Regions from separate parts of the Homo sapiens genome. Here region 2 is linked to region 1. The links come from fine-mapping of genetic effects on gene expression. Tissue or cell type: caudate. Region 1 holds a variant in brackets; the other region holds the start of a gene. All regions are shown on one strand. Distances are from middle to middle.

What was found. PIP is the estimated chance that this variant, and not a neighbour inherited with it, causes the effect.
Region 2: it holds the start of MPPED1, and the variant in region 1 is fine-mapped to the expression of MPPED1 in caudate (GTEx, PIP above 0.99).

Annotation. Positions count from the first base shown.
Region 1 is chr22:43,747,711-43,752,855 of GRCh38, forward strand. The region is part of intron 6 of EFCAB6 (EF-hand calcium binding domain 6); the gene reads right to left. Among named protein-coding and RNA genes, the nearest start is that of EFCAB6, 62 kb to the right of the region's middle. The variant G/C (reference allele first, on the strand shown) is at 2,689.
Region 2 is chr22:43,408,984-43,414,128 of GRCh38, forward strand. It overlaps MPPED1 (metallophosphoesterase domain containing 1), which reads left to right and starts at 3,031. Exons shown (of 7, transcript NM_001044370.2): 1 at 3,031-3,175. LINC01639 (long intergenic non-protein coding RNA 1639) reads left to right here. Exons shown (of 4, transcript NR_146918.1): 4 at 103-698.

The DNA.
Region 1 (5,145 bases):
TAGACTTAATGAGCCCCTGCTATGTACACACCATCTGAAGTCTTACCCTTCCTCTAAGGCCTGGTTCAAACCAATCACCCTCCCTGGGTACCTCCCCAGTAGCCAATAGGGGTGACTTTCTCTTACAAAGTCTTAGAGAGTTTACTGTCCACATCTCTCAGCTGTCAGTATGAGCAACTTGTATCACTTTATTCCCTAACTCCTCCTGATCTAGGTGATATACCGCCCAATAAACACATTTTTAAACCATCATAATGTGTTGCTTACGCTTGTGTCCCCAAGGTGATTTTAAGTTTCTGGAGGACAAGAATCAGGCCTTAGTCTTCTTTGTATCCCCAATAACCACATGGTGTCCCCACAACACCAGTAGGTGCTCAACAAATGCAGACGATGATGGTAAGAGGGTGACCGATGACTTCCAAGCCTGGTAACAGGTACGCCTGACTCCAGTTGCTTTCCCAGCAAATGCACCCATGATGCTGCTGACAGCACTCTCCTAAATACATCATAACCCCCTTATCAGAAACCTTCAGTCATCCTCCTCCTGACCCATGCCGAAGGGTTAAAACCTGGCCTTCAAATGCATCTTTTCCGCCAGTCTACCTTTCAAAACTGATCTGTCCCAACTTGCCTTGAGAAACATAACTCTACAGAATAGCCGCAGGGCTTGTCTCCTTGCGGTGCTCTGGCCACAGCCCGGCTTCCCTCTCCTCATGTCCTTTTCTTAGGCCAGGTTGCAATTCTGAAAACTACCCCACATCTCTTCCCCTATCCCATCCTCAACGTGCATTGCAAGTCTATCTATGGTCCAAACTCAAGCTCCAATATCACCTTCCTCATCCAATTGTTCCTGGCTATTCCAAGGAATATGAACTTTTCTACAAAACTTTCTTTATTCATACAATAATTATTTACTGAGTGTATATCCGGCTCTAGGAACTGTTCAAGGCACTGAAGTTACCACAGTGGACAGGACAGAAAAGGTGCCTGCTCCCACAGAACACAGATCCCAGTCACAAACAAGCAAACAAACAACATTTCAGAATGTTCTACGTGTTACGGAAAATGTACAGTTTTAGGGTAGTCAAAAGACATCTCACTAGAGAGCTCTCTCGGGCAGAGCTCTGAAAGCTGGGACATTTAACTGAAGTGTACTCGATGCACAAGCAAAAGACATGGGTATGTTCACCAGAGAAGTCTGACGGGCTCTGGCTTATGTTTTGAACGGATAACTCTGGCTGTTGTGTGGAATGCAGATTATAAGGGGCAAGAGAGGCAACGGGAAACCCAGCTAAGGAGTCACTGACAAAGCACAGGCCAGCAACAATGGTGGCTTAGGTATAATGATGGCAGTAGGGATGGATCAGAAGTGTCCGGGTTTGGGATCTAGTTCAGGATACAGTAGACATAACTTGCTGACGGCCTGCATATGGGAGGGGCACTGGTAAGGGAGAGGTAATCAAGACTGGTCCTTGGTTTCTGCTTGAATGAATGATGAGTGGTAGAACCATTTACTGACCTGGGAGGAAGGATTCTTGGGGTGGGGCAGGAGGACAGTCACGAGTTACGTTTTTGTCTGTGGACACTGGTGAGTCTGGGGCCTCAGAAGGAGATATAAACGTGGGCACCCTCAGCATATAGCCCTCTTATTCTTCCCCTAGTAGCTTTCAATCCTAGAGCAGCAGTCCCTAACCTTCTGGGTACCGGGGACCAGTTTTGTGGAAGACAATTTTTCCATGGGCCAGTGGGGAGGGGGTATGGTTTCGGGATGAAACTGTTCCACCTCAGACCATCAGACACTAGTTAGATGGTTCTCATAAGGAGCGTGCAACGTAGATCCTCGCATGCGCAGTTCACAATAGGGTTCGTGCTCCTATGAGAAGCTAATGCCGCTGCTGATCTGACAGGAGGCGGAGCTCAGGCGGTGATGCTCATTTGCCCACCGCTCACCTCCTGCTGTGCATTCTGGTTCCCGACAGGCCACCAACCAGTACAGGTCTGCAGCCTGGGGGATGGGGACTGCTGCCCTAGATGATCGCATGCCATCCTTTAACTTCCCACGTAAGAACTCGCATGCTTTGTGTCCTCTAAATACAAACTCCTAATTTTGTTGAGTAACTTCTATGTGCCCAGCACTACGGTGAGTTCATTTTATATTTATTCTCACACAGAATCCCAATAACACTGAGAAAACCTTGCAATATTGTTCACCCAGTTCACAGATGGGGAAAGTCTCGAAAGAGGCAAGACTAGCTTGCTCAGGATCACTCAGAGAGTCCGTGTTGGTGTTCAAATGCATGCTTGGACTTGCTAAGGCCAGAGCTCCAGACTGTACCCCCACACCATGCTGCTTTAAACATTTACCCCTACAATCTTGCGTTTGCACTATTAATTTGTCACACACAGGAAGATTAAAAAAAAAACCTTAGTCCGAAATAATTGCAAATTCTGATATTGCAGAATCTTTGCTGTAGTTCCTTCATGAAAGCTTTAGTAAATTAATGATACAGCAACCAAAAATAGGTCCTGGGGTAGAAGTATTCTCAATATAATTTTTTAATAAAATGCCAACGGATTATTTTGTGGTGTGAGATTCTCTAGATCAAAATATAAGTGCTACTCTTCATTTAGATGCACGGAGACACAAGAATAAAAGCTGTGACATTATTAATCACTATATTCAGTTAT[G/C]ATTGATAGGCTTTTCTGCGGGGAGGAAACAGTGTCTCAGATACAATCTGTCCCAACAGCTCTACGATATGCTAATATTTTCTTCAGATGAAAGAGGAGATGTGTTCAAATACCTGCTACAATAGGCAATTAATACCAAGTGCAGCAAAGTAGAGCTGATGAAAGTAGGATTAGGGGAATATTAGGAATTAACCAAGAGCTTGCTTGTTTTAGTAAATGGCCTCATTTTGAGCTTGACACAGCCTTTTTGTTAGGCAAACAGACTGCATTCCTGTCTATTCATTCATGCTAATGTAGTGTTATAAAATTAAGGTGTGTTTATGAAATGGTGGTGATTCTAACAACTGATTCTTTATCCCTTGAATATTAAATTTTTAAATGTCTTTTTAAAGAAAATTCACCTCTTTAAGAGAATGAATCTACCCACCACTTTTGTCTCTTCTTCATGAGGATATTACAGAGCAAGCCAGCAGCTCAGCAATTATAATTATTTACTAATTACTTCTGAAATGACTATCTCCACACACCTCCAAGGCACCAGGGTAATCCCATAAAAACCTGTGTCAGATCACTCAGTGTCCAACAGACACGCTTGTCACAGCCGACTGGGTAGACCAGATGTTCTGGCATCATGGTGCCTGAACCTTCAAGCATTTTTTTCTTCTGAGAGCTCCCTGACTTGGGTAGTGACACGGTACAAGAGCAAACAGCCTGGGGCTTAGAATGCTTTGTTTTTCTTTATGTACTTCTTTAACTGAATATACATTCTTTAATTCTAGTCTTCAGTGAAGAACGTATTTTTTTTGTGAGGGGGAGAGTCACGACCTTCTGAACATACACTGTATTCCTATACAGGTCAGAATAGCTTTCTGTTTCTCAGTACTTCCCTCAACAGGGCTTACAATGAGCCCTCACCTCACCTTAGGTGGTAAGATGGGATTTTCTTCCTGTCTTAGCCACTCCTATCTTCACCTCTTGTCGGGAGTTGACAAATGATAGATGGAATAAAAAAACTTACACTTCGTTAGCCTGGCAACACACTGCATCTTTGTTCAAGTTCTTTCTCTCCTGGCAGTCCTCGCCTGAAGAATGTGAGGAAGCTGTCTGAGGTCTCGGGCGCTGCCACCACTCCAGGATGGAGCTGGGACCCCACAGGCAGACAGGGTGCATGAAAGACTGACGCGGTGGAGGAAGTGTGAAAGGCAGGACACCAGAGAGAAAAGGGAAGAAAACTCCCAAATGCCCACTTGAAGTAGATGCTCCATGGACAGAAAGGCAACTCTGTGGTTGGAACACAAAGCTCCACCGACTTGTGCGGTGATGATGAACAGAAAGACTTCTCTCTGTGATGGACTGGGTCTAACTACAGGTGTAACAAGTTGTCACATTTGCTGAATGCAAAGTAAGCATCAACATATGCCTGCTTAACCTCTTTTCTCTCAGCTTCCTTCCATATCAATATGGGATAACAACGGCACCTGCCTCATGGGGTTCACCTGGGAATTAAATGCCTTAATGCGATAAAGCACTTAGAACAGCTCCTAGTACGTGCTCAGTGCTAGCTATTATTACTAGAGTTGGCAAAATCTGAAAAATTACATTAATGTCCAAAAGATTAAGGCCCCACCAGCCAAGAGGGGTCCCTTATATAGGTAGCTGAAGCAGATGGATTGGTTGCCTTCCCAAATCCATTCACCTCTAACCACTTCTCCTTTCCATTTTTTTTTTTTTTTTTTTGAGATAGAGTCTCCCTCTGTTGCCCAGGCTGGAGTACAGTGGCACTATCTCGGCTTACTGCAACCTCTGCCTCCTGGATCCAAGTGATTCTCCTGTCTCAGCCTCCTGAGCAGCTGGAACTACTGGTGTGCGCCACCATGCCCAGTTAATTTTTGTATTTTTAGTAGAGACAAGGTTTCACCATGTTGACCAGGCTGGTCTTAAACTCCTGACCTCAGGTGATTCGCCTGCCTCGGCCTCCCAAAGTGCTGGGATTACAGGCGTGAGCCACCATGCCCGGCTGCCCACTTCTCCTTTCTAACAAAACCCTCTATTTTCCATTTTGTTCAGACATCCGCCCTTCTTGGGTGGCCATGTGCTTCATAGGAGGGAGCCCAGTGGCCACACCAGGTGGTGATTGAGGTTGGTCCTGGCTGCTGGCGGGAACCAATTTCCTTGCCCGTGATTGCTTTAGGTGTGGGGCATAATTCCAGGCTGTGGGACACAGGGAGGGACTTTCTCTTGTTTTTAGAGTCATATTGGGAAAAAAGGGCCCACTGAAAAAAATTTGACATCAAAGCATCTGCCTGGAGTGCTGGCAACCTCCTGGTAACCAGGAAGAGAGGTAGGTGTGTTAGTCAGTCCTAGTCTCCACGCCCTCCTGACTTCTTGGGTGAGATAAGAAGCTCCTTATTTTCTAAGATAGTTAACTTGGAGTCTTCGGTTTCTCATAAGGGAAAA
Region 2 (5,145 bases), 340 kb before region 1:
ACCCCCACCCAAAATCTTATCATCAGGGTTGAAATTTTGCTGTATTTACTTCCTGACTTCTTTCTCCTCTTTCCCTCTATTTTTTCATTTTTCAAAACACAGATTCGGGCACACTCTGGTGTAACCTGCTTCGCTCGTTCGCGGGATGGGTGGTGAGCATGGAGCCCATTTTCCCATGTGGCATTTCAGCAACAGGACTTGGCTATTTGAAACTCCCCAGACATAGCAGGATTTAAAAAACGGATCCCCTCTGGCTGGGCATTTAGGTTGCTTTCACTTCTGGGCTGCTATAAACAGCCTGCAGTTACTGCCTCAGGACGCCTTTCTGGAAGGTGAGTTTCTTGGCCAGGGGATATCGCACATGCACTTTGGAGCCTCTGAGCCTTTGCACAGGCTGGTCCCTTTGCCTGGCTGCCCCTCTCCCATTTATCCCTAGATTCTTCTGCAGCACACACACTGCCTCCTCTGAAGTGTCCTGGCTGCATGTGCTGCTCTCCTTGCCCTGGGCTGCCCTCTTCTCCCTGGTGTCATGAGTATCTGCTGACCTTCTGCTTCTCCCATGACAGAGTGCCTTCCTTCTCTTCCTTCTCTGCCTTGGCCTCCAGCACGTAGTAGGCGCCTAGGAAATGTTTTCCAGCAGAACGAGCCATCTCCTGGCTGGTTTAGCAGTGTGGGATTGTGTGGTGTTTCTATTAGTCTCCATGAACAAGTGCCACTGTGTTATTAAATTTTTCCAAAAGCAGAATGTGTGCTGTGTTTGCCAGAATGGTTGCTCTTTTAGGAGTGGGTCTATCCTGCCCATCCCACACTCCTCATTCCCTCATCTTTTAGGGACCATTCCCTGGGCACCTACAGAGTGCCAGGCCCTGTGGGATGCAGCACTAGGCGCTGGGGAGGCTGACCTCTGGGATGCAGCCTGGCCCAGGGGAGGCATGAGGGCTACATAAGACAGTGTGGGTCAAGCTGAGAGCTCTGCGCCTGGGACTGGGTGGTGCAGGTAGCACCAGGTCCCTCTGGTGGAGAGCTCATGCTTGGCTTCAAAGCAAGTGCCGAGTGCCAGGAATATGGTAGATGCTCAATAAATGTGTACCCTGGGAAGGTAAGAGATGATGCTCTGGGACTTGAGGGTAGTTCTGGTAGGACTGGAGGTGGTGGGGAAGCTGGCCTTGGAGGACAAGTGTCACAGGAACCTCTGCTCTCGACCCAGGGACCAGGAAGGCACATTTGTCACTGTCCTTTGTGATCTCCAGAGGCCACAGCCAAGCTGTGGCTTTGTCCCAGGCAGGCGGCAGGTGGGGTCTGCTGAGACACTGAGTCCAAGCCGCCTTCCCAGGCAGGCATGACAGTTTTCTCCTTCACCTCCCTCGAAGTCACGGTGCTCAGGAAGCCTGTAGCCTAGGAGGAGAAAGAGGCTCCCGGGTTGAGTTTGGGATTCCCTGAGAGAGAATTGGGGTCTAAAGACAAGGAAGCAGGAGGGGGTGACTGCCTCAGGACTCCTCGGCCAGCCCTTGCCCCCCATCTCTGGCCTGAGGGCCCCAGGCCTCCATCCTCTCCCTCCATAGCCCAGCCTCTCCCCCTCTACCTCTGTCTTTAGAGGTGCCAGAACAAGCTGTAAAAAGATAAACGTGACCAAGTCACAGCCCTGCTTAAAAACCCTCTATGGCTCCCACTGCCCCTGATAAAGTCTATCCAAGGCTCTTCCCGATCTGGCTTCTGTTCCCTCACTCCCAGCCTTGCCACCTCATCTTCCCTCCCTTGCTTTTCCTTTGTCTCTAGCCCCAATGAACTCACATGCCAAGGCCTTTGCATGCCGCATTCCCTCGGCCTGGATGTCTTTTCCAGGCCTTCTCTCCTGGCATACACTCATTCAACTGGGCTGTCCCCACCTCCAGGAAGCCACACCAGATAGCAGTCCTCAGGGGCAGAATAGGCCTGAGGGGCCCGCAGAGGGTGTCCTTGGGGATTGTGTGATGTGTGTGTTGGTGAAGGGAGACCCTACAAGCATTTGTTGAGGGGCTTTGGGCCTCTGAGGAGCCACAGCCCCTTTTCATCTTCCTCTCAGTCTGGGAGGCCCAGGCCAGAGTGATCTGCACCCTAACTATACAAGGCCCTGGAATCCCCGTCCCACCCGCGGCAAGGGGCTGGAAGCCACAGGGCCTTAAACTCCCCAGGGTGACCCCCGACACTGAAGGCGATGGTCTCTGCTCTTCCCAGCAAGGCAGGGCCTCTTTACACTGGGTGTCGCGCCGTCTGAGTTCCTGACTTGTTTACCCATCCCGTTGGGGCTCCGGCCGCTGCAGGCTACCTGCTGTGCCCGGGATTGGGGACCTGTGACTCCCGAGTGGAAGAGATGGTGGCCCAGGAGGAGGACCCCGACCTATTCAGACTGGGAGCTGGGGTCAGAGTGTCTCCGTCTCCGGAGGGGGACCTTCCAGACCCCGGGCGGGAGGGGCCCACAGCAGGGTGCCCCGGCGGCCCCAGGAGGGGGTCCGGGCCTCGGGCGAAGGCTGCGGCGCCCCGGAAGGAGCCGCGCACGCCCCTGCACGCGGTGCCCGCTGCGGAGGCCACGGATCCGGAGGTGAGAGCGCCCCCGCCCCGCTCCCTGCCCAGCCCGCGCGCGGCCCGGTCCGGGGCTGGGGGCGGGCGCCAAGAGGGGCGCCGGGCGCAGTGGGGCGGCCCCCTCCCTTTTCCGCAGCGCGGGCCCCGCTCCTCCTCCCGCGTCCAGGCCCGCGGCCGCGCTCCCTGTCCCTCCGCAGCGGGATGCGGACTCCGAGCCCGGGCGGGGGCCGAGGGCCGAGGCCTGGCGGGCCTGGCGGGGGCCCCGGCGGGTGGCGGCGCAAGGGCCGGGACCGAGGCCGCGAGCGCGCCCCTCCCGGCGGCCGGGCGCGGAGAGGCGGGGAGGGCGGGCGTGGGGAGGCGGGCGGCGGCGGGCGGGGGGAGCCAAGGAGGCTCGGAGCCTCGCGGCGCGCGGGCGGGCGGCGGAGGGGGCGCGGGGAGCCCCCCGCCCCACGAAGGAGGAGTCTGGCTCCCACTTGCAGCCTCGGACGCGCGGCGAGGCGGCCGCCGCCGGAGGAGCCCCCGCCCCTGCGCGCCTCCCTCCCGGGAGCCCCTGCCTCCCTCGGTGCGCGCTGCTGCTCGCAGCCGCCGCGGCCGCCGAAGAGGAGCCCGGGGCCAGGTAGGACCGGAGGCGGGCGGGGCGCGGCGGGCGCGGGCGGGAGGCCGGGCGCGGGGCGCGGCCGGGACCCTCTCCAGGCGCTGGGCGACGCCCGCGGCGCTGCGCAGGGGCGCCCGCAAAGTTACTTTGGCCGCCTTTGCCGGGTGCGGGAAGCGGGCTGGGCACCCCAGCTGCCCCGCCTGCCTAGCGGGCGGCGGCGGGAGGGGGCTCCGCCAGGGCGCGGGACTCCGGCTGGGGCCGCGGGGTCAGCGAAACTTTTCCCTTGCTCGCCAGTCGCTGCTGCTGCTGGCGGAGTAGCTGGTGGAAGCAGCGGGCTGGTGGAGTGCCAGTGATGATGATAGTGGTAACAATAGCAGCCCCCGCTTGTAGAGAGCCTACTGTGTGCGCTGCCAAGCCCCTGCTGGCACTTGGGGGGGAAGAGATAGGGAACGAACGCTGGCCGAGTGGCCACTTTTGCTAGGTATTGCTGGAAACTTCATCCATTTCCTTCCATCCATTCATCCCTCCCTCCCATCCATCCATCCATCCATCCATCCATCCATCCACTCACTCAACACATATTTATTCCTGTCTGCTATGTGCTCGGCCAGGGGATTCAGTGGCTACCTAGACAGGTCCCAGCCCTCAAAGGGAATGTTGATCATGGAATGCCCAAACTAAGGAGCAGTTCTGTCTCCTGTGTGTTTGTTCTGGGACATGTTACGGGAGCGTGAATTCATGCTGTCTCCCTTCACCCTGGCAGGGCCAGAGGCGTGTCATTCAGAGCACTGATGTGCCCAGGAGTCTGGCAGGCCCCGGCCTGGCCTTCGGAACTCACCCTGCTCCTTTCCCTCCCACCTCTCCGGGCTCAAGCTGGGTGGCCCAGTTGGTGTCAGGAGGCTCCACTCCGGAACTGGCCCCCACCCCTGTCCAGCTGACCTCTCTGGGATGTCTCTTCCCCAGTGCTGGGCTGGCCTGGCTCCCAGCTCCCCTCCCAGAGTTTCTTTGCCTTCCCCCTCCCCATTTCCCCTGCTCTATTGAATGGCCCAGAGGAGAGCTTGTTAAGTGGCAAACAATTATGAAATTAAACTGGGGGAACAAAAGTGGGCTGGCTGTTGAATGGCGGAGCTGGCTCACGGGAGTTGAATGGCACTGGGAGACTTGTTAGCAGGGATCTGCGGCGCCGGGGGGCGGGGGCGGGTCAGGCAGACAGGCACTGTCAATAATCTGACTGGACTTTGCAAAAAAAAAAAAAAAATTAAACCAACTTGGTGAGAAACCTGGCACAGGGCGATGTTGGAGAGGCCACCAGCTGACTGCCACGTCCAGTCGGAAGCCAGATCTTGGTGTACAGGAGCCAGGGCTCTAAGAGACTATTTGGGGAGGGTGCTGATGGATTCGGCCGGGCTGAGGCAGGGGAGAACCTCAATGCGTTTGAGCTTGTGGTGCTAGGGAGGCATTCTGGAGCCAGGCGCAGTCTGCAGGGGCCCTCTGTGTGGGAACCACGCATGATAAACTGCGCTTCACCGTGCTGGGCTCCTTGCAAATTGGCTTTCTGAGTGGCAGCCCCACAACACTTGTAAAATCTTTTTCTGGAGATGGATTTCGGTGGAATGGTTCCATCGATTCTAGTGCTTGCTCACTGGAGGTACATTAATTGGGCGATGGCTAGTCAAAAGGCGATAATCCAGTCACGGAGGCTTAATCGTGTGTTCGGAAGTGTTTCAGTGTGGGACTGCCTTCCTATTTATTTCTCGGCCCCAGGAATTTCGGAAGACCTGGATTGAATGAGGTCCCTGTACTGGTGATGTGGATGGGTTCAGAGAGTCACCTACATGGCCGAGGAGGTACCTCTGATGTAACCACCCCGTGGTACGCTTAGAATCACTCACATCCACCCTGGCTGATGCCCCGTGGGCTATGCCTGTAGACAGATAGGACAGGTTTAGATCTAGGCGAACAATAAGAATTTTAGGGTGTTTTACTTGAGC